Regions from separate parts of the Homo sapiens genome. Here regions 1, 2, 3, 4 and 6 are each reported to be linked to region 5. The links are microRNA targets in miRTarBase. Many come from high-throughput screens and were not tested one by one. Region 5 holds a microRNA gene; each other region holds the end of a gene's coding sequence.

What was found. The annotated mature microRNA hsa-miR-10b-5p reads UACCCUGUAGAACCGAAUUUGUG and lies in region 5 at 2,713-2,735, opposite strand. An mRNA with a match to its seed (bases 2 to 7 or 8) in the 3' UTR can be bound and repressed. Matches are read on the target gene's strand: a 7mer-m8 pairs with bases 2 to 8, a 7mer-A1 pairs with bases 2 to 7 and ends in A, and an 8mer does both.
Region 1: the mRNA of PPP1R13B is a reported target of hsa-miR-10b-5p. The part of its 3' UTR that is shown has no 7-base or 8-base seed match.
Region 2: the mRNA of DLAT is a reported target of hsa-miR-10b-5p. The part of its 3' UTR that is shown has no 7-base or 8-base seed match.
Region 3: the mRNA of TSPAN33 is a reported target of hsa-miR-10b-5p. Seed matches in the 3' UTR shown: 8mer at 1,318-1,325.
Region 4: miRTarBase lists ZNF574 as a target of hsa-miR-10b-5p. The part of its 3' UTR that is shown has no 7-base or 8-base seed match.
Region 6: miRTarBase lists CHMP1B as a target of hsa-miR-10b-5p. Seed matches in the 3' UTR shown: 7mer-m8 at 2,140-2,146.

The regions. Positions count from the first base shown.
Region 1 is chr14:103,731,752-103,735,821 of GRCh38, reverse strand. It overlaps PPP1R13B (protein phosphatase 1 regulatory subunit 13B), which reads left to right. Exons shown (of 17, transcript NM_015316.3): 17 at 627-2,627. The coding sequence ends at 668. It overlaps ZFYVE21 (zinc finger FYVE-type containing 21), which reads right to left. Exons shown (of 7, transcript NM_024071.4): 6 at 3,060-3,202; 7 at 2,158-2,839. The coding sequence ends at 2,804. Among named protein-coding and RNA genes, the nearest start is that of ZFYVE21, 18 kb to the right of the region's middle.
Region 2 is chr11:112,061,916-112,066,002 of GRCh38, forward strand. It overlaps DLAT (dihydrolipoamide S-acetyltransferase), which reads left to right. Exons shown (of 14, transcript NM_001931.5): 14 at 491-2,489. The coding sequence ends at 620. It also overlaps a transcript of PIH1D2 not described here. Among named protein-coding and RNA genes, the nearest start is that of PIH1D2, 10 kb to the right of the region's middle.
Region 3 is chr7:129,167,443-129,171,529 of GRCh38, forward strand. It overlaps TSPAN33 (tetraspanin 33), which reads left to right. Exons shown (of 8, transcript NM_178562.5): 7 at 1-118; 8 at 331-2,257. The coding sequence ends at 432. Among named protein-coding and RNA genes, the nearest start is that of SMO, 19 kb to the right of the region's middle. RefSeq lists a silencer at 1,745-1,964 and enhancers at 2,335-2,384, 2,454-3,323.
Region 4 is chr19:42,081,017-42,085,103 of GRCh38, reverse strand. It overlaps ZNF574 (zinc finger protein 574), which reads right to left. Exons shown (of 2, transcript NM_022752.6): 2 at 3,552-4,087. The coding sequence ends at 3,807. Among named protein-coding and RNA genes, the nearest start is that of ZNF574, 6.9 kb to the right of the region's middle.
Region 5 is chr2:176,148,977-176,153,063 of GRCh38, reverse strand. It overlaps MIR10B (microRNA 10b), which reads right to left and starts at 2,761; the gene lies at 2,652-2,761. HOXD4 (homeobox D4) reads right to left here and starts at 1,514. Exons shown (of 2, transcript NM_014621.3): 1 at 998-1,514; 2 at 1-456. The coding sequence starts at 1,430. The coding sequence ends at 122. It also overlaps a transcript of HOXD3 not described here. RefSeq lists an enhancer at 1,062-1,795.
Region 6 is chr18:11,851,873-11,855,952 of GRCh38, forward strand. CHMP1B (charged multivesicular body protein 1B) reads left to right here. Exons shown (of 1, transcript NM_020412.5): 1 at 1-2,572. The coding sequence ends at 239. All of the region lies in intron 5 of GNAL (G protein subunit alpha L), which reads left to right. Among named protein-coding and RNA genes, the nearest start is that of CHMP1B, 2.5 kb to the left of the region's middle. RefSeq lists a silencer at 1-252.

The DNA.
Region 1 (4,070 bases), not on the chromosome of region 5:
GGTTCCCCCAGCCATGCTTATGCCATGGAGGCCCGTGCGGAGGCTGAGTGCCCCAGTGAGGGGCCGCTCAATGAGCTCGGTTCATGATGAACTTCACCAAGTGGCCCGGCTCAGCCCACCCACACTTTCCCCAATCTAGAAATCTCTGCAGCCTAGAAATTTCTCCAGTGGAGGGAGAGGTGGGAACGTGCAGGCTGCTAGCTCTGTGTTGGACTTGTGATTCCCTCAGTCCTCTGGCAGAGGGAGCTGCCTCTGCTCTCTTTGTGCCCTGCAGAGCTGCCAGGGGCTTGCTGTTGAGCCAACGTTCTTGGCCAGGCAAACACAGCAGGGAGCCAGGCAGAGACCCTTGCCCAGGGGAGCTTATGACCTTGAGAGCCACAGGCAGTCACAAGTCTTTAGGTGGCATGAAGTGTTGTGAGAAAAATAGGATATTCTGGGGGTACAAGGCACATTTTAAAGAGGGCTGGGTGGGTCTCAGTGTAGAGGTGCAGCTGAGCGTAGGCCTGAGGGACAAGGGTGCTGCACGGCTGTCCAGGGTGGCTGAGGTGAGGAGCAGGGGTCGGGTCTGGCTGGCCCTGCTCCCTGTGTGTGGCTTCCTGTCCTGACGCGGCTCCGTTGCTTCCCAGCTGTATCCACGGATCAAACCCCGACAGCGAACACTCGCCTGAACTTCCTTTTGGAGCACCGCATGGTCTTGCCAGCTACCAGGAGCCACTTAAGAGATTATTGTGCTGTTTTCCAGGAAAGCTGCAGCTAGAAAATGGTCTTAATGGTGCTCACTTTAGCAGACAGCGTCCACAATGTGAATCCTACAGTTTCCAGGTGAGGCCCTTTCTCCAGTTTGCCCATTAACTGGGAGAGGTACTTTCGCCTCCAAGGACTGAATTTTGCCAATTACTATAAATCCAAATAAATACCCACTTTCAAAACACCCACCCCTCTTGCCATTAAGAAGTCCCATAACCCCCGGTTGGTTGCCAGTGAAGACAGAAGCTCTTACTGACTTGGCCCCGAGGCCATCACCCCCTCCAGCAGTGAACACTGTCCGCCGCTGTGAGGCCTGCTCCCCTGCGACCGCCCTGCCCCCCGTCACCGAATCGGACACTCATCCTTTCTCACACTTCCCACACATGATCCTTCTTCCCTTCATCACCAAAGGAGCCTCTGTATGGAAACATGTCCAGTGTTGCTGCCCAGTGTGTATGCCTCCCAGTACCCACTCTGCTCGGCCGCCTTGGGGGTTCCGCTTCCTGTTCCAGTTCACCTAAAGGCTGATTGTGCAGGCCCAGCACTGTGGCTGGACTGCCGCGCCACGGGCACCAGGACCCCTAAGACCAAGTGACAACTGGGAGAGCCTCAGCATATACTCTTCTCCTCCGATCTCACAGCCTGTCATGCTGCTCAGTGTGGTTCTCACCCCTGCAAGCTCAAATTCAGTTCCCTGAATGGAGTCAGGTGCTGGAGGCCGTGGCAGCGGAGGGTGGTTGGGGTTGGGGCTGGGGGTGGACTGGTGTGAGGGCAGACCAGGGCCAGGTAGACGGGGCTGTTTGGTGCCTGAAGGATGGCAGACGCCTGGTGTCAGGAGGGGCCGCCACCAAGGAGCAGCAGCTGGGGCAGAGGAGCTGGGGTCAGGGGCCACCCCTCTCTGCCGATCTCCCTGCCTGGGCTGGCTGTGAGGCCACCTTTGTCCCAGGCCCAGCCTCAAGGCAAGGAGGGCGCTTCACTGAGGTGTGAATTGTACGTACAGGCTTTTTATATACCAAAAGTATTTTTTGACTAGACCATTCAAAGCTACCCGAACTATGTTGGAAATTTTTTTTTTCTCATTAAAATACAGGCCCTTAGGCTCTATTTTTCATGTATGAGTCGTGTGTAATTTATGTAAAAATGTGTGTACAGACTCACTGATGCAGCACTGTAGCCCATCACCTTGGAGCACTGACTGTACATAGTGTGGTGAAGAAAAGTGAACGCCCTTGTAGAGCAGCCCGACCACAGGAGCATGGCCGCTGCCAGCCCAGACGCTGCTGACGCTGTGTAAATGTGCACAATAAACCCGTCTCACCCCGGCGGCTGTGAGTCTTCTTTCTGGACCCAGACTGCGCTGTGGCACGAGGGTTCAGGTGATCTGGACACAGGAAGGCGAGGCCTTGTCCGTATGTTCAAAATAGTTTTTAATCATAAGCTTTATATACAAATTGCTGTACAGTCATCTTAATAAAGTGAAATAGTGAGTGAAAAGTACAAAACACAAAGCCCCCACGTTCCCCTTGGTGAAGTATCAAAGGATCACTCACAGCCCAGAAGCCCCAAATTAGTGACAAGGTAAGTGGACAAGTCTGTGAAACAGGCTAAGGCAAGTGCTGTAAACTGGCTATTAGAGGCGAACAGGCTCCACTGCAGACCAGAAGCCTGAGTTCCTACTGCCCAAACTGGTTCTGTGGAAGAATTAAATGAAATGAATATTGATGGGCCAGAACCTTCTAGTAGACCTGCGAACTCATAAAAATGGTATATATTATGCTAAAAATAGTTTAGCAGTAGTGTAGCTCAGTCTCTCCCACCCCCAATTAAGTATTGACAATACACAAATTCTAAAACATGAAGCTGTTTAAAGCATTAATAAACTGTGAACATATTGCACTAGATAAGTGAACACTCCTGTTTCTCCAAATACATGAGTGAGTTGCATTTCCCAGCACAAGCAGGATTAATCCCTGTGGTACGCAAGGAGCAGGCTCTGCTGTTCCAAGCGACTCAGTCCTGGTGACCACACGTACTCCAAGCTCAGCCCCACGTAGAGTTACTGGTCCCGAGATTCATAGAGGAGCTTGGCAGCCTGCAGATCAGACAAGATCAACACAGTGAGGCCTGCTTGGTCCTGTGCCTGGTGGAGCCAAGCCTGTGTGCATTTCAGGGGAGATGGCGTGGGCACCCCAGCTGAGGGGGAACAGGTTGTGGGGATAGGGGGCAAATGGCAGGACACAGAGCTTCCTCTGGGAAAGGCAAGCTTTTGTCTAAGCCAAAGGGCCCAGCCTCCCTGGCCTGGGCTCAGGTACCTTGTGCATGGCCACTAGCCACGCCACCGCCTGCCTCCTGCCCACAGTCACGTCCTCCACCACTGTCAGCTTCAGCTGGGTCACACCCTCCGTCCCCGGCACTGTATACTGCAGGAACATGCCTGTGGCCCGTGCGTTGCCTCCTGGAGGAGAGAGACGAGGTAAGACGGCCCAAAGGAGGCCCTGAGTGCCCAGGCGGCCACCAGCCCCAAGGCGGTGGCCAGCACATCCTAACCTTGTGCTGCTCCAAGAGTAGCCTGGCAGTGAGGGCTGGTGCTCAGGAGCACCCAGGGAACACCATCTCCTCAGGCCTCTGAGGGGAGACCCCAAGCTCACAGGTGGGGTGGGAGAGGGACCAAGACACTCAGCCGGGTGCCCCAGGGCCCGGGACAAACAACAAGAGCCACATCACCACGAGAGGCCTTGCTCTCGGCTAATTGAGGCGCTGCTATGCCCTGGGGCCTGTGGGGGTTCCTGCCTTCAGAGAACCTCCAGACAAGACTGGCTCCTGCAGAGGTGCCCACCTGCACCCAGGGCTGGGGGAAGAGTGGAGGCCACCTCGAGAGTGCCCTGGCCACTGACAGGCCAAGCAGATGGTCAGGGACACAGCTGGCCTCACCCAGGAGTCAGAGGCCTCAGCCATCCCACCGTTGAGAAGCGGCGTCAGCACAGAGGGGATTGTCACTACAAAGGCCCAGTGTCAGGGAAATGCCACCCCAGCCTGGTCACGGGCCATCTCCCCAGACCCAGCACCCATGTTGGGGACTGGTCTCTGGGACCCAGGCTCCCCGTCTTTGGGCGGTGACCAGCTGTTCCAGTGACAATGACTCAATTCCAGCACTCGCTCCAACAATACACTGCTGAAGAGAGCAGCTCTTCAGTCAGGGCTGGTGTTGAAAGAGACCCATGGGATGCAGCCTCCCATGAACTTGATGACTTGGGAGGGAAGCCCCATCGTAGGCAATCACTGACCTCTCAGGAGACCCCTCCATCAGACACACATCCCCCCAT
Region 2 (4,087 bases), not on the chromosome of region 5:
CTATATTGTATCTTCAAATAAAATTATATATATATAAAAAATACGAAATTCTTCAAGGCAGCAACTTTACTAAATGCAGTTAGTCCTATTTGAGGTGGAAAGCCTTATTTATTCTAGGTGAGGAGTCAGCATGCTTTTTTTTAGTTGTATAGTAAGTATTTTAGGCTTTCTGGGACATATGGCTGCTGTTGCAAATAATCTGCCATTGTAGTATGAAGGGAGGCATAAACAAGACAAATGAATTGCAGTAAATCTTTACCTAATAAAAACAGGCAGAGGACAGGATTTGGCCCATTGCCCACCCATACTCCAGGTATCTGGTCTGTTTCTTCAAGCTATAAATTTGAGCTAAAGGTATAGGAGACTGGAAGAGTAGATAGGAAGTATTACCTGGTTGGGATTATAGGGTAGGAGTGAGCATTTGGGTGGTTACTGGCTGAAATGCAGTATTTTCTTTCAGAATATCTAAAATGTCTTTATCTTTTTCTAGGTTTGATGTGGCTAGCATGATGTCTGTTACACTCAGTTGTGATCACCGGGTGGTGGATGGAGCAGTTGGAGCCCAGTGGCTTGCTGAGTTTAGAAAGTACCTTGAAAAACCTATCACTATGTTGTTGTAACTAACTCAAGAATTTCTAAACTCTCCCAGGTCACACTGATTCATTCTTAACAAGATATTTATATGTTATTAAACAGGTGGTTCTTTTTATTTTAACCAGTTATTTTTATTATTGAGTCTGTCCAGATAAGTTATTTATAATGGGCATTACTGAATTTTTAAAATGCCGATTACACCCAAATATTGTGCACATTTAATAATCAGACACCAGATTTTTAGCTCTGTACTCCTAATTAAGGGACATGTATGTGGCCTTGCCTAGCCCTTTGGTGATAAGTACTTCCTCTAGGAAATGTACGATAGGTAGAATTGTGGTTCCCTAAAGACAAGTACATAAAGGTGACCCTGATGAAACCTTGAAGTTCTGAAATTTAACTGCCTAAAATGTTCTCCTTAGATGTGAGAGAAAGAGAAATCAGAAAAATTAATTCTCTTGGGGGAAGGGCTTGAATTGAAGCTTTACTTTAGAATTTAGCCCTGGTTTGAAATTTTCCATTACATGATCTTGGTTTATCATCGATGGGAAGGGTAGAAAACTTCAAGGAAAATAAGTGAAATTTTAAAAGTCAGCATTTTCTTAGACCTCTTCAGCTGATTGTTTATTTTTCTATGAATTCCTACACATGGTTATTCCCCCCTACTTGAGATAATCTAAATATAAACCAGCTACTTGATGTAACTGAGAATTTGTGTGGATATTTATTTAAACAAATGTGTAATTTTGAGTACAGAATTCAACAGTTACCTCCAAAAAAGAAACATTGTTAATATAATTTAACAGAAGTTGTGAAACTAAAATTTTCTAAGATTAACTGGTAGTTCATTGTAAATGAACATAATGAACAGAATTTATGACTCCACTGTGGAAAATGCTATCAAATAACTAAGGAATATATATGGAATAAGTGTACATATGTAAAATATTGTTACTAGAGTTAGATATGTGCCAAAGTCCATTTATCCCAAATCCTGTCTGAAAAGGAGGGGTACATTGGTAAACATTTTGGAGTGCTTAAAAATGCCAAAAACAAAATGGTAATTTCTACTTTGATAAAGTAAAAAAGTTAAATGTGTGTAAAAAAGTGTTCTGTGTCCTTCTACTCCAGCATCGTCTCATGTAAAATAAGAAAGCCCTAAAATACTATTGGAGAGAAAAAATTAACTAGGTTGCTACTTTATTTGCCTAAATACTTTTTTCTATTTTGTTAGATTTTGCCTTTCTTTTGGAAGGAAGGAGGCGATATTCTGGATTATAAAAATGAATTGGGAACATTATCACAATTCCAGACTTTCTATTAATATTTATGTGTTTTAATAAACGTTTGAAATTATTTATGACTACTTAAAATGAATCTGACCAGTGCTTCCTGGTATATGTAATATGTGGAGTTAGCCCCTGAAATTTGCTTTAAGTGTTTCAGTGTTGAATCTGTTTCTAAATATTCATTATTACATGGTACACAAGTGACACTCCATATATTCCACACAGACTTTTACCTTGCTGTATTATTATGAAAACAATACATTAATTTGATTTTTCAGTAATTAGTAATTTTAGGTTGAAGATTATCCAAAAGAAACAAGCTTATCACAAGGGACCATCATCAATATGATCCAAATCTGGTTCAAACATTCAAAACTTCAAAGATAATTCATCTTTCGCTAATGCTTGTGGTTCTGTTGTTCCCTTGAAAAAAAATAAAAACAGTTGCCTTCTAATAAACATTGTTGAGTTAAAAATTAATCTGAGCTATAATCTAAATCGATTCAGTCTCTTACCAGAACTGAAAGAAAAAAGTTAGAAATAGTGTTTTTGGTTCATATGATTATTTAAAAATTAAAGTATAAATCTTCAATATGTCTGGTTTAATTTTTGGTCTGTTGGTAATTATTTTCACATTTAAATTATTTAGATCTAGGGACAGCCATGTATGTATAAGCTCTCAATACAGATAAATTTTGAGTTTATATAATTGGCAAAATATGGACTACATTTAGGAGAATATAATCTAACACTTTTAAGCTCAAAGAGTTCCTGAAGCACCCCATGTTGGGGTGTGGCACTTATTATCAAGATGGAAAGTGTGGTCTGGTTCTGTTAGGTGATTTATTCCCAATTCTGAAGCTTGTGATTGTGAAGTTAGGGTATCCCAAGGCATGGTCTAGAAAGGAGTAAACCAGCACATTAGAGAGATAGGAGGAATGTTCATCATGTGTAATGCACAAGTCCTGGAATACATGGGGAAATCATCATCACTACTGGTAAGTGATCTAAAAATGAAGTCTGTAGAAAAATCTGGTCTCCAAATTTTTTTTTTTTTTTTTTTTGAGATGGAGTCTGTGTCGCCCAGGCTGGAGTCCAGTGGCACAATATCAGCTCACTGCAACCTCTGCCTTCTGGGTACAAGTGATTCTCCTGCCTCAGTCTCCTGAGTAGCTGAGATTACAGGTGCCTGCCACCACGCCCAGCTAATTTTTTGTATTTTTATTAGAGACAGGGTTTCACCGTGTTAGCCAGGATGGTCTCTATCTCCTGACCTTGTGATCTGCCCACCTCAGCCTCCCAAAGGGCTGGGATTACAGCTGAGCCACCACGCCCAGCCTCCAAATTTCTAATTTTGAGAAAAAGAAATCTCAGTAAGATTCCAATTTAAACCAGTCCATAGTTCATTATTAGTTAATGCCCTTACTGGGCCCCATTTTGTTTTTTGTAGGGAGGGGAAGATAGAGCTGTTTTTATTAATACAAAATGAGTGAGAATATTTTGGAAAATAACTAGAATGTAAATTTTACCACTTTAAGTATATTAGGTCTTGATGTGCATTTTAATGAGTATACAAACACAGATACTGATGAAAATAGCATCTAAGTGCTGAGTGCAAGGGTAGAGATTCAATTCTATGTGGTTAGGAGTTTTTAGGAAATACATTTTGGTAGTGATTTTGTAGGAGTAAAGATAAGGTGAAGGCACTCAGTTTTTTTGAGGGGTGAGAATAGGTTTGTTAATTTTAGGACATGATACAGTTCCAGAAATTTTTCAGGAGATAAATTATCCTGTTGCTAGTAGAATTTAAATCCAGGCCAGGCCTTCAAAAAGGAGATTTGAGGCAAGGAAAAAAAAACAAAAATCCAGACCAGGCTTAAGAAAATTATATTTGCTTTTAGGCTAGGCCCAGTGGCTCACGCCTGTAATCCCAACACGTTGGGAGGCCGAGGCGGGCAGATCACTTGAGGTCAGGAGTTTAAGACCAGCCTGGCCAACATGATGAGACCCAGTCTCTACTGAAAATGCAAAATTTAGCTGGGTGTGGTGGCAGTCGCCTGTAATCCCAGCTACTGGGGAGGCTGAGGCAGGAGAATCACTTGAACCTCGGGATGGGGCAGGGGTAGGGGGCAGAGGTTGCAGTGAGCCAAGATCGCGCCACTGCACTCCAGCCTGGGTGACCGAGCGAGACTCTGTCAAAAAAA
Region 3 (4,087 bases), not on the chromosome of region 5:
CTACTTGGAAGCTAGCAAAGTCATCTACACCAATGGCTGTATTGACAAGTTGGTCAACTGGATACACAGCAACCTATTCTTACTTGGTGGTGTGGCTCTAGGCCTGGCCATCCCCCAGGTAACTTACCCTGTGAGACTTGTTGGTCCCACACACTCTGTAAAGACTCCTTTGTTTTGGGGAAGGCACCTGGGGATCAGCGAGGGTGTCAGGCACTGACATGGCTGAGGGGTAGGGAAAGGGATAGTGCTGGCCGCACTGGGAAGATCGAGCCAGGGAAAACAAGGCCATCACTCACTGCTGAGTGCCCAATTCCTTCTTGCCTCTCCCAGCTGGTGGGAATTCTGCTGTCCCAGATCCTAGTGAATCAGATCAAAGATCAGATCAAGCTACAGCTCTACAACCAGCAGCACCGGGCTGACCCATGGTACTGAGAATCCATCCTGCACCTCCTCACCATGGAAACTGGCAAGCCTCATAAACGAACAGCAGTGGGTGCTGAAAGCAGCACCAAATGGAGATTTGGATTCCAGCCCCCCAGTGACAGCCCAGTGGGAAGAAGCAAACTCCAGATGGGCAGAAGGCAGGGTGCACAGGTGGCTCCAGTCTCAGGAGGATGCGCCTCCTCTCCCCCATCCCAGCCCTCAGCATTGTGCCAGAGTGATACCCTTAAGTGTTTGGGTTTATGTTTTCAGTTTTGTTTGGGAAACAGCAGTTGCACAGAGAGTTGGGGGTACTGCTGCTGCCTTTTCACCGAGGCACTGCCACCACCAGCTCTAGCAGGGATGCTCCTGAGCTTGGCGGACATACTTAGATCCTAACGTGCCAGTGAGACCTGGCTGTGGAGAGTAGCACTGGCAGCCCTGCCTGGACTCCACTTGGCATGATACCAGCTCCAGAAGGGAAGGGAGTGGAGCAGGCAGTGAGGAGAGAGCCTGGGGGTCGGCTGGGGACAGCCGTATGTGCTAGGTAGGAGTGGAGGGAGATATGTTTACCAAATGCCTGTCCTGCCATCCTCCCAGGTAGTCAGAGTGAGCTACATCCTGCCCCGCCTTCATTTCCATGGAAACATGGCAGCTAGGACACGGGGTACAACAGCAGCCAAATTCTTCCCCACCTCCCTTACTTCGAAAAAAAGTTTGGAACCCTGGTCCCTATACTCTGCAGTCAGAAGTGGGACTGAGCCATACATGCCCTTGAATTCCTCCCTGTCTGGCCCTCCCTCTCCAGCAAGCAGGGTTTTCTTTAACTTGGCAGTGTGCAGAGGAGAAGTGGTAACACCCCCACCCCATTCCCCTGCATCGGAGCTCAGTATTCCTACAGGGTAAGAGGTAGGAATCTTGCTGGGACGAGGGGAGCCAGAAGTGGCAATAAAAGCGTGTTGACCTGGGCTACGCGGGACTCCATGAATTTTCCATTCTGGCAACTGGAAGGGGAGGTGTAGAAGGGCCCTGCAGAGGACGGCACTGGAGACTCTCCTAAACGCCACACACCTCCCCCTTGCTGCCCGCCACACGCGCGTCTCCTTCAACCGATGCATTGCCACCCTCCCACAGCCTCGCCCTCTGCTCTAAATTAGGTCGAAAGAGTCCCAGTTCCAATCTAGGAACAGCATAATTTTGTTCCAAAACCTGATCTGTGTTTTTCTAATTAAAATTAATTTGTCACCCAAAACAGGAGGGGGATGGGGAGGAGGGACATGAGCACTCCGCTGGGGCCGGGACGGGGAATGAGGAGGAAGAAGGCCCTCTCTTCCCCTACCCGGGCCCTCCAGGACCTTCTCCCTGAGTCGGCTGTAGGGAGGACTCCGAGGAAGCTCGGCGCGGTGCGCTGGGCCTCCTGGCGCCGGGAGGAGCGCGCGAGGCAGGCGGGGCGGGCGCGTCCGGGGCGGGGCGCTGGACTTCGTGGGTGGTCCCCGCCCCCGCGGCGGCCTAGGCCCGCGCCTGCGTCCCCCAACCCGGAGGAGATGGGGGGCTGTGCTAGCTGCTTGCCCAGCGAGTGTTCCCGGAGTCTCCTCGCCGCACCCCGCTATCGGGCGCTCAGACCAGGGGCTCGGCCTGGCGGGAAATAGCCTCGACCGAACTGCTGCGGGGACAAAGAGCCGCGAGTTCGCTCCCTGCCCCCAGTGTCTCCTAAGCGAGCCTTCTGCTCCTAGGAAGGCGCCTTTCCAGCAGCCGCTGGGACCCTGGCCAGTGTTTAGCTCCCAACTAGTAACAGACGGAAAGAAAAAATAAAATTATCCAGAATCTAGAATAAAAAGTAAGGGCCTTTTATTCTGGGAGAGGACAGTTAAAAAGCGCGCTTTCTTGCTAACTTGCCTTTCTTGGTTAGTGCCAGAGACGTGCACTTTATAAACTTATTTAAGTGACACGGACCCAGAAGTCGATGTCTTGGGTTAGAGGTTGGAGTGATGCGCCCTCTGGGTTCAGCGGCTTTGAGGAGCTCACCCTGCAGCGGGCTCCGTTTGGGGCCCCTTGGAGGAAGTAAGACCAGGAACCGTGATCCTCAGAATGATTATTCAAATCTGGATTTTCAAAACTAAGAACTACACTTTCACCATCGCCTCTACTGTCTCTCAGTATCTAGCCTCCTGGGTCTGGACTAAAAGGCTGGGAACTTCTGCCCATGCCCCAGACTTTATAACGCACAGAGCAAATGTTCAGTATAGTGCAGTTCAGGGTTCCTAGCTAGATTGCAAATTGCCAATGTCTCTGATTCTCAGTCTGTAGCTTTCTTTCTCTTCGGCCTGATGCTGGGGAAGAAAATACGCGAAGTTTTATATTTCATGTTTGCTCCTTGAATTTCTACCTATTTCTAGTAACCCTCCTCCCAAACACACACTGTTACCAGACACACACTGTTACCGGGAGTCCTTCCCAAGAGAGGGTTCTTGGATCTGACACAAGAAAGAATTCAGGGCAAGTCCATAAAGTGAAAGCAAGTTTATTAGAAAAGTAAAGGAATAAAGAATGGCTACTCCATAGACAGAGCAGCCCCAAGGGCTGCTGGTTGCCCATTGTTAGGGTTATTTCTTGATGATATGCTAAACAAGGGGTGGATTATTCATGCCTCACCTTTTTAGACCATGTAAGGTAACTTCCTGACGTTGCCATGGCATTTGTAAACTGTCGTGGTGCTGATGGGAGCGTAGCAGTGAGGACGACCAGAGGTCACTCTCGTCAACATTTTGGTTGTGGTGGGTTTTGGCCGGCTTCTTTACCGCAATCTGTTTTATCAGCAAGGTATTTCTGACCTGTATCTTGTGCCGACCTCCTATCTCATCCTGTGACTTAGAATGCCTTAATCTGCTGGGAATGCAGCCCAGTAGGTCTCAGCCTTATTTTACCCAGCGCCTATTGAAGATGGAGTTGCTCTGGTTCAAATGCTTCTGACACCACTACTTTAGAATAGCTAATCAAATGTAGGCCGCAAAGGTGGTTGAATGAAAGGAGATTCTTGGGGACAGCAGAAATCAGGCTTGGTACACAGAGGTGGAGAGAAAGGCCTGAAGGATGGTGAAAACCTGCCAGGGTGGCATGCCAAGAAAGGCACCACTAAGTTCTGCGGGCCTTAAGCCCTGCAGTTAAACAAAGACTTGTGCCCAGAAGAGCAAATTTTGCAGAATGTTCAGTGAAATTCTGATTTCCTCCTATCAGGTTTTTATTGCTACTGTTACAAATTACCAGACATTTAGTAGTTTAAAGCAACACAAATTTATCTTACATTCTGGAAGTAAGAAGTCCAAAATGGGTCTCACTGAGCTAAGATCAAGGTGTGAGCAGGGCTGTATTCCTTCTTGGGGGCTTCAGGGGAGAATCCATCTTTCCTGCTCCCAGAGGCCGCGTGCATACCTTTGGGTGGTCCCTTTCTCCAACTTCTGTCATCACATCTCCTTTTTCTCTGACTCTCCTACTGCCCCCTGACAGGACCCCTGTGATTGTATTGGCCCATCTAGATTATCCAGGATGCCCTTCCCCCATGAAGATCATGAATCTCGCCACGTCTACAAAGTCCCTTTTAGTATGTAAGGAAAGAGATGCATCGGTTCTAGGGATTAGGGCATGGACATTTTTGGGGTGGCATGATTTA
Region 4 (4,087 bases), not on the chromosome of region 5:
TAACCCAGCTACTCGGGAGGCTGAGGCTGGAGAATAGCTTGAATCCGGGAGGTGGAAGCTGTAGTGAGCTGAGGTCGTGTCACTGCACTCCAGACCAGGCGACAGAGCGAGACTCCATCTCAAAAAAAAAAAAAAAAAAGTCCGGGTGCAGTGGCTCAGGCCTGTAATCCCAGCACTTTGGGAGGCCGAGGCGGGTGGATTACGAGGTCAGGAGATCAAGACCATCCTGGCTAACACGGTGAAACCCCGTCTCTACCAAAAATACAAAAAATTAGCTGGGCATGGTGGCAGGCGCCTGTGGTCCCAGCTACTCAGGAGGCTGAGGCAGGAGAATGGCATGAACCCAGAGTCAGAGCTTGCAGTGAGCTGAGAATGTGCCACTGCACTCCAGCCTGGGCGACAGAGCGAGACTCCGTCTCAAAAACAAACAAACAAAAAAAACAGGCTATGTGTGGTGGCTCATGCCTGTAACCCTAGAATTTAGGAGGCCAAGGCAGGAAGAACCCTTGAGCCCAGGAGCTCGACACCAGCCTGGGCAACACAGTGAGACCCCATCTCTACAAAAATTGAACAAAATTGGGCCAGGTATGGTGGCTCACGCCTGGAATCCCAGCACTTTGGGAGGCCAAGGCAGGTGGATCATTATAATGGTCAGGACTTCGAGACCAGCCTGGCCAGTATGGTGAAACCGTCTGTACTAAAAATACAAAAATTAGCTGGGCGTGGTGGTGTACGCCTGTAGTCCCAGCTACTTGGGAGGCTGCGGCAGAAGAATCACTTGAACCTGGGAGGTGGAGGTTGCAGTGAGCCAAGATTGTGCCACTGCACTCCAGCCTGGGTGACAGAGCAAGACTCCATCTCAGGAAAAAAAAAAGCTGTTGCGTTTCCTCAGCACTGTTCCATCCTCTAATGTATGCTTGGCACACAGGTGCTGGGATCCTGCAAAGTCGATAGTGAGGGTTGGGGGAACTGAGGCACAGGAAAAAGGAATAGAGTGAAAGACAGGTTTCATATTTAGTAAGACAAAAAGTGTCAGCATTGCAGTGTTTTGGCAAGACAAAGAAAGCAAAGCCCCTCAACTCTCAAAACAAATCAACAGGGATGGGACATAAAAATAGTACATGGAGGAAGATCATTTGGTTCAGGCCCATCTTCAAGGTGGCACAGTCAGAACCAAACAGAACCCAAGACGCCATCTCTACAAAATAAAGTAGCCAGACGTGGTGGTGCTCGCCTGTCGTTCCAGCTACTTGGGAGGCTGAGGCAGGAGGATCACAGGATCACTTGAGCCTAGGAGGTTGAGGCTGCAGTGAGCTGTGATTGTGCAACTGCATTCCAGCCTGGGTGACAGAGCGAGACTCTGAAAAATAGAAAAAAACAGGCCAGGTGTGGTGCCTCATGCCTCTCATCCCAGCACTTTGGGAGGCCAAAATGGGATGATCCCTAGAGGCCAGGAGTTTGAGACCAGCCTGGCCAACACAGCAAGACCCCATTTTTAATAAAAAGATAAAAATAAAACCTAACACAGGAACAGAAAACCAAACACCACATGTTCTCACTCTTAAGTGGAAGCCGAACAATGAGAACATGTGGACACAGGGAGGGGAGCATCACACACCAGGACCTGTCAGAGGGTGAGGGGCTAGGGAGGGATAGCATTAGGAGAAATACCTAATGCAGATGACAGGTTGATGGGTACAGCAAACTACCATGGCATGTGTATACCTATGTAACAAACCTGCATGTTCTGCACATGTGCCCTAGAACTTAATTAAAAAGAATACTCCAAATCCTAGGATTTGGAACTATATATATGTATATAAACATTAAAATGTATGTTTGTATGTCTATAGAGTAAAACAAACTATAAAAAAATCTTTATATACATATATATTATTTACTGTATCTATTGTGTAATTTATATACATATAACAGGTAGGATACACACATACACACACACGCACATAACCTGATTTTTTTTTTGTATAAACAGAACCCTAATACATTAACTTTTCAAATGTTATGTCATTTATTTTACAAGAACAATTATTAGAATTTGTTTTAGGCCAGACGCGGTGGCTCATGCCTGTAATCCCAGCACTTTGGGAGGCTGAGGCAGGTAGATCACCTGAGGTCAGGAGTTCAAGACCAGCCCGACCAACATGGTGAAACCCTGTCTCTACTAAAAATACAAAAAACTAGCCTGGCATGGTGGTGCGCAGCTCTAATCCCAGCTACCTGGGAGGGTGAGGCAGAATTGCTTGAACCCAGGAGGCGGAGGTTGCAGTGAGCCGAGATCGTGCCATTGCACTCCAGCCTGGGTGATACAGTGAGACCCTGTCTTAAAAAAGGAGTTCTTTCAGGCCGGGCACAGTGGCTCATGCCTATAATTCCAGCACTTTGGGAGGCTGAGGTGGGCAGATCACCTGAGGTCAGGAGTTTGAGACCAGCCTGGCCAACATGGTGAAACCCCGTCTCTACTGAAAATACAAAAACGTAGCCGGGTGTGGTGGCACGCGCCTATAATCCCAGCTACTCGGGAGGCTGAGGCAGGAGAAACGCTTGAACCTGGGAGGTGGAGGCTGCAGTGAGCCGAGATCACACCACTGCACTCCAGCCTGGGCGGCAAAGACTCCAACTCAAAAATAAAAAGGAAAAAGAGTTCAACAGAAAGATCTGGAATAATCTTTGGGGGGGGGGGTCTCAGAAGCAAGGCTAGCACAGCAGCCTAGCATCCCACCAGTCACATACTCCCATCTTGTCTCTACCACCCTCCCCAAAGTATGCAGAAGGCAACAGAGTAGAGAGAAAAGCATATCGGTGATTAAACCAAATGAAATGAAATCAGGCTTAAATTCAAGCTCTGCCCTGCCTGGATTGAATGTGACCTTGGGCAAGTCATCTCAATGCTTTTGACTGGAGATTCCTTCCCTGCAAAATGTTCTCACGTAATCAGTGTGAATATTATTCAGTTATATAGTACTTGAGACTGACTAGATGTTCAAACATTAGCCAGCCATCCCAACAATCCATCACTCACAATAAAAATCTGTTGGCTGAGCCAAAGTCCAACTCCAGGGGAATTCAAGTCACCACCTCTCATGAATCTTCCTACATCCAGACACATATTATTCAGAATCTCCTTTAATTCCACAGCTCTAGAGATCATGCCTACCTGCATTTGCTCTTGGGGATCAATGAGAAAATCAGATGGCCTTGGGAGACAAGGTCCACATCAGGCCAGGAGTCAGGGACAGGAGTGTAAAAATCTGATTTCTCTGAAAGTTCCTGCCACCAGTACAAACACTCTTGAGCTTTTCCACAGAGCCATGGGACCTCTAGTGGCAAGAGAGCCATGCTACCTCCATCTAGCAGTGAAGTGAAGGCCCTGCTATGAGAGCCATGCCCATGAACACCAGGTCATTCTCTTCAGCCCAGCAAATGTTTACTGAGCTCCTACTACCCCTAATACCTGCCAGGCCCACTTCTGGGTGTTGGTGATGCAGCCACGAGAGGTAAGACCCATGACTCCCAAATTCCACTCTACACACTGCTGGCAACTCAGTCTTTATTGATGGTTTCATTTTTGGGGTCACCAGTGCTAAGAGGTGGAAGGTGGGGGGGCACCTTTATGTGTGTCAAGGACCCCAGAGCACCCCCCTCACGAGAGAATAAATCCAATTTAGAACTTACAAGGTGGTGGGGATGGGAAGAGGAAGGGACACAGTATGTACAGATGCTTAAGGGGATGCTGGAGGGCCTTCAGCAACAGGGAATGGAGGTGCCAAAGAGGAAGTCGGGCAGAGTCAGCCACTGATCTGGACCCCCTCAGCCTCGGCCAGAGGGTAGATCTCAATGGCTTCCACCAGGGGTAGCGCCTCCACAGCAGTCTCCATGACGGCCAGGCCAACGGCAGCCTCCGCCTCTGCCAGCTGCTGCCGCACAGCTGCCTGATGCTGCTGCTGATGGGTCTTGCGGTGCTTCCAGAGGTTGGAGAAGGAGCGGTAGCTCTTGCCACAGTCAGGGCAGGAGTAGGGTCGTTCGCCTGTGTGGATGCGGCGATGTTCTGCCAGGCGCATGGAGATGG
Region 5 (4,087 bases):
CTTGTCCCAGGTCCACCCCACAGTACCTTAGAGCCCAGCGAGGTGACAGCAGGCCCGGCCTGCCCCCGCAGCTTCGGCTCAGCCTGGTGCGCAGGGAGAGATGGGCCCAGGGTCCCCACTTCTATAAGGTCGTCAGGTCCGTGTGGTGGTCTTTGGCCATCGGCTGTAAATGCTGGCTGGGGGCGACTGAGGAGGAGCAAGATGAGGAGGAAGATGAGGACGATGACCTGCCTTTAGTGTTGGGCAGCTTATGATCTTTTTTCCACTTCATCCTCCGGTTCTGGAACCAGATCTTGATCTGGCGCTCCGACAGACACAGGGTGTGAGCGATTTCAATCCGACGGCGCCTTGTCAGATACCTGTTAAAATGAAATTCTTTTTCCAGTTCTAGGACTTGCTGCCGGGTGTAGGCCGTTCGGGACCGCTTGGGTTCCCCACCGGTGTAGTTGGGGTTCACTGCGAGACAAAACAGACAGGACAGGCAGGTCAGCGCCCGGCCACTAGTTAGGCCCCTCGCCTCCGCCGCTCACTTCCTGGCGCGCCCCGAGGCCCGCGGCCCTCCCCGCGCGCTCCCAAGCTCGCTTGCTTCCTCCCTCCCGCCCTCTCCCCGGCGCACACGCTCACTCCCACCCACCTCCTCAAACACACCCACATACCCCAGGCTTGCGGGATCCCCAAATGTGCTCCTTCTTCTGGGCCCACCACCAGGTCCGGAACCCTCAAGCATTTTGGAAATCCCCCGCTCCTCCACAGCCTTCCCCCTGCTCTGAAAATGGAGTCCTCCCCCACCCCCCCATCCCCACCCCCTTTTGCGCCCACAGCCGAGCAGCCAGCCACATGGTCCTGACCTGCTCCCTCAGCTATAAAAATTTATGGGGAGAGTAATTGCGGCGCCCATGGAAGCTCCACACGCCCCCACCTACTCGCACCCCCTTCCAGAGGACCCAGGCTAACGGGCTGGGATGTGGACAGAAAGGTTACTGGACCCTAGCCTTACCCGAATTCACGTGCACCTTCTTCATCCAGGGGTAGACCACGGCCGGCTGCTTGAGTGCCGTCCCGGAGGGCGGCTGCTTGGGGTCGGACTGACTGTAGGCCCGGGCGCCAGGCAGGGGCGCCGGCGGAGGCGCCGGGGGAGCTGGGCAAGGCTCTCCTGGAGCGGCGTAGTGACCGCCGGGGCCGCCTGGCTCTTGTCCGTGACCCCGCGCAGGCAGCGCCGAGCCAGGCCCGGGGCCGCTGCCTCCGAAAGGCTGCTCACCGAAGTCGGGCCGTGGGTAGAGCCCCGGGGGCTGGAAGTCTGCGCCCTGCGCGCCGCCGCCGTAGTAGTCGGCGCCCTGCTCGCCTAGGTAGCCGCCCTGCAAATACTCCTCGCACGGAGGGAACTTGGGGTCCACATACTTGGAGTTCACCATATACGAACTCATGACCATTAATTTCAGAAGGTAGAAAATACTAATTTTTCTCGTGTTGTCTTTTTTTCTCCTTCCATAGGGCCCTCCTACTTGCTGTCAACTGAATAAAGTTGGGCAGCCATGTGACCAGGCCAGCCAATGGCGAGGGAGCAAGTTTATCACCGGGTTGGTGAGCATCTCATAATTTTCACAAATTTAACTAAATAACATACGTGTAATCAAGTAGCTTGCTATGGCACATTTGAGAGCCCCTGCCAGATATTAATGTAGTTCCAGTCCCCAGCACCCCATTCCCCTCAGGTAATCCCAGCTTTTGTCTGCCACTGATTTTGCCAACCTTCCGTGGCCCTTCCACTCACCCCCAGCTGAATGCAACCCCCGCCCCCCGACACCAAGTAGGCACAGCTCAAGGGAGAATGAATCCTCCTATTGGGGTACAGAGCAATGAAAGGTGGGTGGGTGAACTCGCCTCTGAGTTGGGCAGAGTGCCCCAGGCGAGGAGGGTTCCTGCCTGCCCGCCCTGCCTGCAGCCGGCGGGAGCAGGGATTCTGCCATACAAAGGCCGCCGTCCTGGCTTTGTCTTCATCAGGGTCACCCAAAAGTTACCAGAATCTGGCCAGCTTGAATCAAATTAGGCAATGAGTAACCGCCATGCTTTCTACCAGTGCCCAGGCCCGGGGGTTCCCAGCCAAAGCTGGGCCCTGCCAAAATAGCAGGGGGCCCTCGCTGCCCTTGCCCATGTAGCTGGGGGTGGGCTGGGATGGTGGCAAGGGCACCTCCACCTTGTCAAAATGCACCCTAGAGCTCCCCACTGGGCTTCTTTGAAGCTTGCTTTCTTCCCACAGGCCCCAAATACAAGCAAGCCCCCATTTGGGTACCTTTGCACCTCATGTTCCTGGAGGGCAGAGCTGGGACTGGGCAAGCTGGCCTTGTACCTCACTCCCTAGTACCCCAAAACCTAGCCCTTTGGCCCTGCATCCATGCAACCAATTAGGCTTGCATTCTCTCTTTCTCTCTCTCTCTCTCTTTCTCTCTTTCTGTCTTTCTTTCTTTTCAGCACCCAGAGGATACTCTGTTTAAAGGTGAGGAGCTTCTGGAGAGGAAAAGCTGCTCTATGTCACCAGGCGCAGCTGATCCTCCTGGAGTCCAAGGTAATAAAACAGAACGAGGCGGCTGACCAGCGCCGGCTGCTTCTAGTCTCCATGTCGCACTTTGGTCTCTGGCTATTCCGAAGAAACGTGAAGTTTTTGCATCGACCATATATTCCCCTAGAATCGAATCTGTGACTATACGGATACCACACAAATTCGGTTCTACAGGGTATATATAGACAACGTTACAACCTCTGGGTCCCACCCAGAGTGAGGTACCTAGGTCGCTGCCGGCCCCAATCTCTTCCTCTGAGCCACCACCGTTCGACGCAGCCACCCGCACTTTCTGAGACAGTTCAGGTAGCCTAATGGGCTTGGCGACAATTTGAAGCAATGAGTTCCCTCATTCTTCTGCCAGGGTCAGGGTTACCAAGCAGGCGAACAACCAGAATATTCTTCTTAAGAAAGAAAAAAAGAAAGAAAGAAAGAAAAATAATCCATCCCAAGGATGGCGGCTTTATTAACCACCCTCCCCCACCAGGATCCAAATAACCCTCCTCCTTACCAAGTGGTATTTTCCAGAAAGGAACAAATGCCCTCAGCGGCAGAAGAAAAAGAAGCGAGAGGGGAATATCCTGTGTCTACTCCTTTTCCTACTGCCCGACCAAGCCAGGTTGTCTGCCAAAGCTACTTCTCCAAGAAGTCGCGCATTTACCTTCATGGGCCCTGATCCGGGCTGGCCTCTCCGTTCCGCTGCTGCTGCAGACCCCGAGGCAGGCGCTGCTCACAGGCACCGAGCCGCCTTGGGCTGAGGCCGGCGCGCTAATGGTGAAGGGCAGGGCGAGGGGTCATTCGAAATCATTTACAAACATATCACAAACTTTCATTATTTTTGCTTTGCCGACAGCAGCACACAAGAGTACAAAAGTTCACAAATTTCACCCGCCCCAGCGCCTCGGCACTGTGCAGTGCTTGTCCCTCAGTTCAGGGCATGGAGAGCGCAGACTCACTCAGAGCCTCGATGGATTTCAGGGGCACAGGGATGCCCTGGCTCGAGTGGGGCTTTTGGGTGCCTAACTGTAGGCTGAAGGTGTTAGATTTTTTTTTAACTGTCTTGATTGCCCTTCCTACCTCCCACATAATTCAAAATTTAGTTTCAAGCCTGGGCCTGGGCCTGGTGGGGTGGGGCAGGGATACTCCCCCTCCAAGCCTGGCACTTTGCTCATCCCCCCATCCTTTGCTTCCACCACTTTACCTGTTTCGTAGGGATTTTGGGGGCGCCAGTTCTAACAAGGGCTATGAGGCTGCAGAATCTGTTTATCCCAGGAGAGTCCCCCCAATTTCCCTGAATGCCAAAGACTCCCAAGTATCCACCTTCCTGGGACACTGGGCCTAGGCTCTATCCAGACAAATTGGGGGAGCCTGCTGAGCCGGCTGGAGACCGGGGTGAATATACACATTTTCATATTTGTTAGACGCTGTGACCTGCATTTCACCTTATTGCTCGACTTGTTCAGACAGGTCAAAGCCAACGAGTTATTGATGAACAAAAGCGTTAAATATTCACCTCCCGCTCAACTGCCC
Region 6 (4,080 bases), not on the chromosome of region 5:
AGTTTGAGACTCTGGACGTCCAGACGCAGCAAATGGAAGACACGATGAGCAGCACGACGACGCTCACCACTCCCCAGAACCAAGTGGATATGCTGCTCCAGGAAATGGCAGATGAGGCGGGCCTCGACCTCAACATGGAGCTGCCGCAGGGCCAGACCGGCTCCGTGGGCACGAGCGTGGCTTCGGCGGAGCAGGATGAACTGTCTCAGAGACTGGCCCGCCTTCGGGATCAAGTGTGACGGCAGAACCCGCTCTGAGGTTTCCTGGCCATAGCCACCCTTTGAAATGCTCTCTGTGTGTTAGAGAGATACTATACCCTAGAAACTCTGAACACGCCAGAATGCTGAAATGCCCTTCTACCTTTGGGTTTACAGCCCCCTCCACATAAATTAAGAAATTCAGTATTTCTGCACTCTTAGCTGGATTCTAAAGTTCTGTATAGCTCGTAATGATGGTATTTTTATAGCAGCCTTTTAACAGAACTAGTTAATTTCGTGTATATGAATCTTTCTCGAAGATCTGGTCAAAACTGTATTCAGTTTCCTGCCCAGAATGATCAGATTGAAGGTGGTTGGTTTTTATTATTATTTAGTGTGATTGATAGTATCTAGAATGGCAGGTGGTGCATAAAAGTTAAAGAGAGGGGAAAGATTACTTAGTTTGGTTATACAGTTATAAACACCATGCAGTGTATTCGGTGGACTGTGCTATTTCTGTTTATCCTTTGGGTTTTGGTTTTTGTTTTTTTTTTTTTTGCCTTCACAGTGAGACTGCAAATGATTGTTCTCATAACGTATATTATTAATAAATGTGGTCCTATAATTTATACTGAAATTACCTTAGGATATTTTTGCATAATACTCTCTTACTGCTTACATTCTATAAATTTTTCACGTGATAATTGTCTTTGCGTAACTGGGAAAAATGCCGAATAACTTCCTTTATTATCTGGAAAAATTAAATTTGTTCATTTATATTTTCTACTTACTAAATTGAGTTTTTAAAAAGACTTAGTGTGACATTTGACAGTGTCTTTCAAACGAACTTCTCTAACAAGTTTATAGTTATTTTCCTGTTTCAACACTATTAGAAGTCTTATAAATTATGCTAATTAGCATGGCAGTCATGTTACACACTCTTAACATTGCCAAAGAACTGTTGATTTCGTTTGAGAAAACCCTAGGACTGTGTGTGTGTAGGTTTTGTTTTGATTTTAACAACCAAAAATAGAAATAAAATTAGAACTGCGTTTTAAGTTCTAATTTGCATTTATTAATTTGTCCAAAAGCAAGAACTCTTGGAAATCCTTGAAAATATAAGCTGGAATGTTTTACTTAGCCATGCAAGTCATTTATGTATACATCCAGCCAGCTGGAAATCTGAGAAGTAAAGAGGTAGGACTGGAAGGAAGGAGAAAGCTTGAGTCTTTAAGGCTAGAGCCCAGCTGTGCTGCCTGCCATCTTCTCAGGAATGGCAGTGCGTATTTTCTGGCTGAAAAGTAAAGCATGTATCCACCGCTTTCTCATAGCCTCGAAACATGGAGAAAAGCAACTTGCTTTTGCCTTGGCAAGCATGCTAACCTAAGTTAATTCAAGTTTTTTTTAACTTACCCTTTCCTTCACTGGAAGATTTTTCCATAAGAGAATTCCATTGTTTCAGAAAATAATTATAGGGGCCCTTCCAAGTTCTTTGAAAGATTCATAACCAACTATTCACTATTATAACATGTTTCCCAGTGTAAATGAGTAAGGAAAAAAAAAGTGTAACAGGTGCGTGCAGATGAGGAGTGACCCTCATATTTAAGTTATTTTATATTTGACTGGACATTGTTCAGAAGTGTGCTTTAAGGGACACTTGTTAGTTGTCTGCCCAGCATCTCTCAAGAATATCCCTCCTGTCCTCCACATGGTTGTGCAGGGCCATGTGTGAAGACAGCATGAGTCTTAACCCCTCTTTTATTTTATTTTTGAGACAGAGTCTCGCTCTGTTGCCCAGGCTGGAGTGCTGTGGCGCGATCTCTGCTCACTGCAACCTCCACCTCCCGGGTTCAAGTGATTCTCCTGCCTCAGCCTGCCGAGTAGCTGGAATTACAGGTGTGCACCACCATGCCCAGCTAGTTTTTTTGTATTTTTAGTAGAGACAGGGTTTCACTATGTTGGCCAGGCTGGTCTTGAACTCCTGACCTCAGGTGATCCGCCCACCTCAGCCTCCCAAAGTGCTGGGATTACAGGCATGAGCCACTGCACCTGGCCTTAACCCCTCTTTAGATTGGAAAAAATAATTACAACTTTAAAAATAGCTTAGTGTTGAACCCTTTGGTAAACTAAAGACCCTTTTATAATGCACATATTCCCAACAAAATTAATATATTTTGTGAGATTAAACAATGCTTGTATATGCTTGAACTTTCTTAAAATATGTCCATGTCATACTATTATGAATGTACATTTTTATGAGTCATAAATATTATTTTCAAAAGCACTACAGGCCCATGAATTACTTCCTCACTTTTGCAGTTGATTACTGAAATGTAAATCACAAGAATTTGTCAATTAAATCATTTTAAACTGCATGTTATTGGATGTGAGTGTGCATCCTGTTTTAAAAAACACTTAAGAAAAAAGAATTGCGGGGCACAGTGGCTCACGCCTGTAATCCCAGCACTTTGGGAGGCTGAGGTGGGCAGATCACCTGAGGTCAGGAGTTTGAGACTAGCCTGACCAACATGGAGAAACCCCGCCTCTACTAAAAATATGAAATTAGCTGGGCGTGGTGCTGCACACCTGTAATCTCAGCTACTCAGGAGGCTGAGGCAGGAGAATTGCTTGAACCTGGGAGGCGGAGGTTGAGGTGAGCCAAGATTGCGCCATTGCACTCTAGCCTGCGCAACAAGGATGAAACTCAGTCTCAAAAAAAGGAAAAAAAAAAATTCTGAGGTAGATTTGGGTCAGAAAGCATGATATTTTTCCAAATTCACCCTCAGTCTTAGCACTTAAATTTTTGTTTGGTTAGTATGGCTTTTTCTTGCATATTTCTAGGATCCCTGGCTTATTTTTGTTGTTGCTGTTTTGAGACGGAGTCTCACTGTCGCCCAGGCTGAAGTGCCACCACGATCTCGGCTCACTGCTGCCTCCACCTCCCAGGTTCTAGCGATCCTCCTGCCTCAGCCCCCTGAGTAGCTGGGACTACAGATGCGCACCAACACACCTGGCTAATTTTTGTTTTTGTTGTTGTTGTTGTTGTTTTAGTAGAGTCGGGGTTTCACCATGTTGGCCAGGCTTGTCTCGGACTCCTGACCCTCAAGTGATCCGCCTGCCTCGGCCTCCCAAAGTGCTGGGATTACAGGCGTGAGCCACCGCGCCCGGTCCCCTGGCTTCTTCACTGTAATTGTTTCTTCATAACTACAAGATTTTTTTTCACATTGAAACTTCCCTACACCAAAGATGGATATAATTTACAAAAGTATCCAACTGAAACACATCAGGGAACTAGTTAACTAGTTAATCTTCCATTTAACTACTAGTTATATTTCTTCCTTTCATTTTTCCGCCTTCAAGTGCACAATTTCTAACATGGATTTAGGATTGAAAGAAAAAAGGTAGACTGGATTAATTCACAAAATACTTTCCTCTACTTTTAGTTTATTTCAGTTCAGGAACCCAGATGATACTGTGTGTGCTGCTGGGGAATTTTCTTACTAAAGCTGTTTCTTGCTGAAGGAATGCCAATGTATCTAGATGCCTTTTAAATACAGGCAGACCATGAGGTTTGGACACTGTGTGCCCGCCCTGCTGTCTTTGATTTGGAAAAGACTGCTGGGCCAGGTGCAGTGGCTCACGCCTGTAATCCCAACACTTTGGGAGGCCGAGGCAGGCAGATCATCTGAGGTTGGAAGTTCGAGACCAGCCTGACCAACATGAAGAAACCCCGTCTCTACTAAAAATACAAAATTAGCCGGGCATGGTGGCACATGCCTGTAATCCCAGCTACTTGGGAGGCTGAGGCAGGAGAATTGCTTAAACCCGGGAGGTGGAGGTTGCGGTGAGCCGAGATCGCGCCATTGCACTCCAGCCTGGGCAA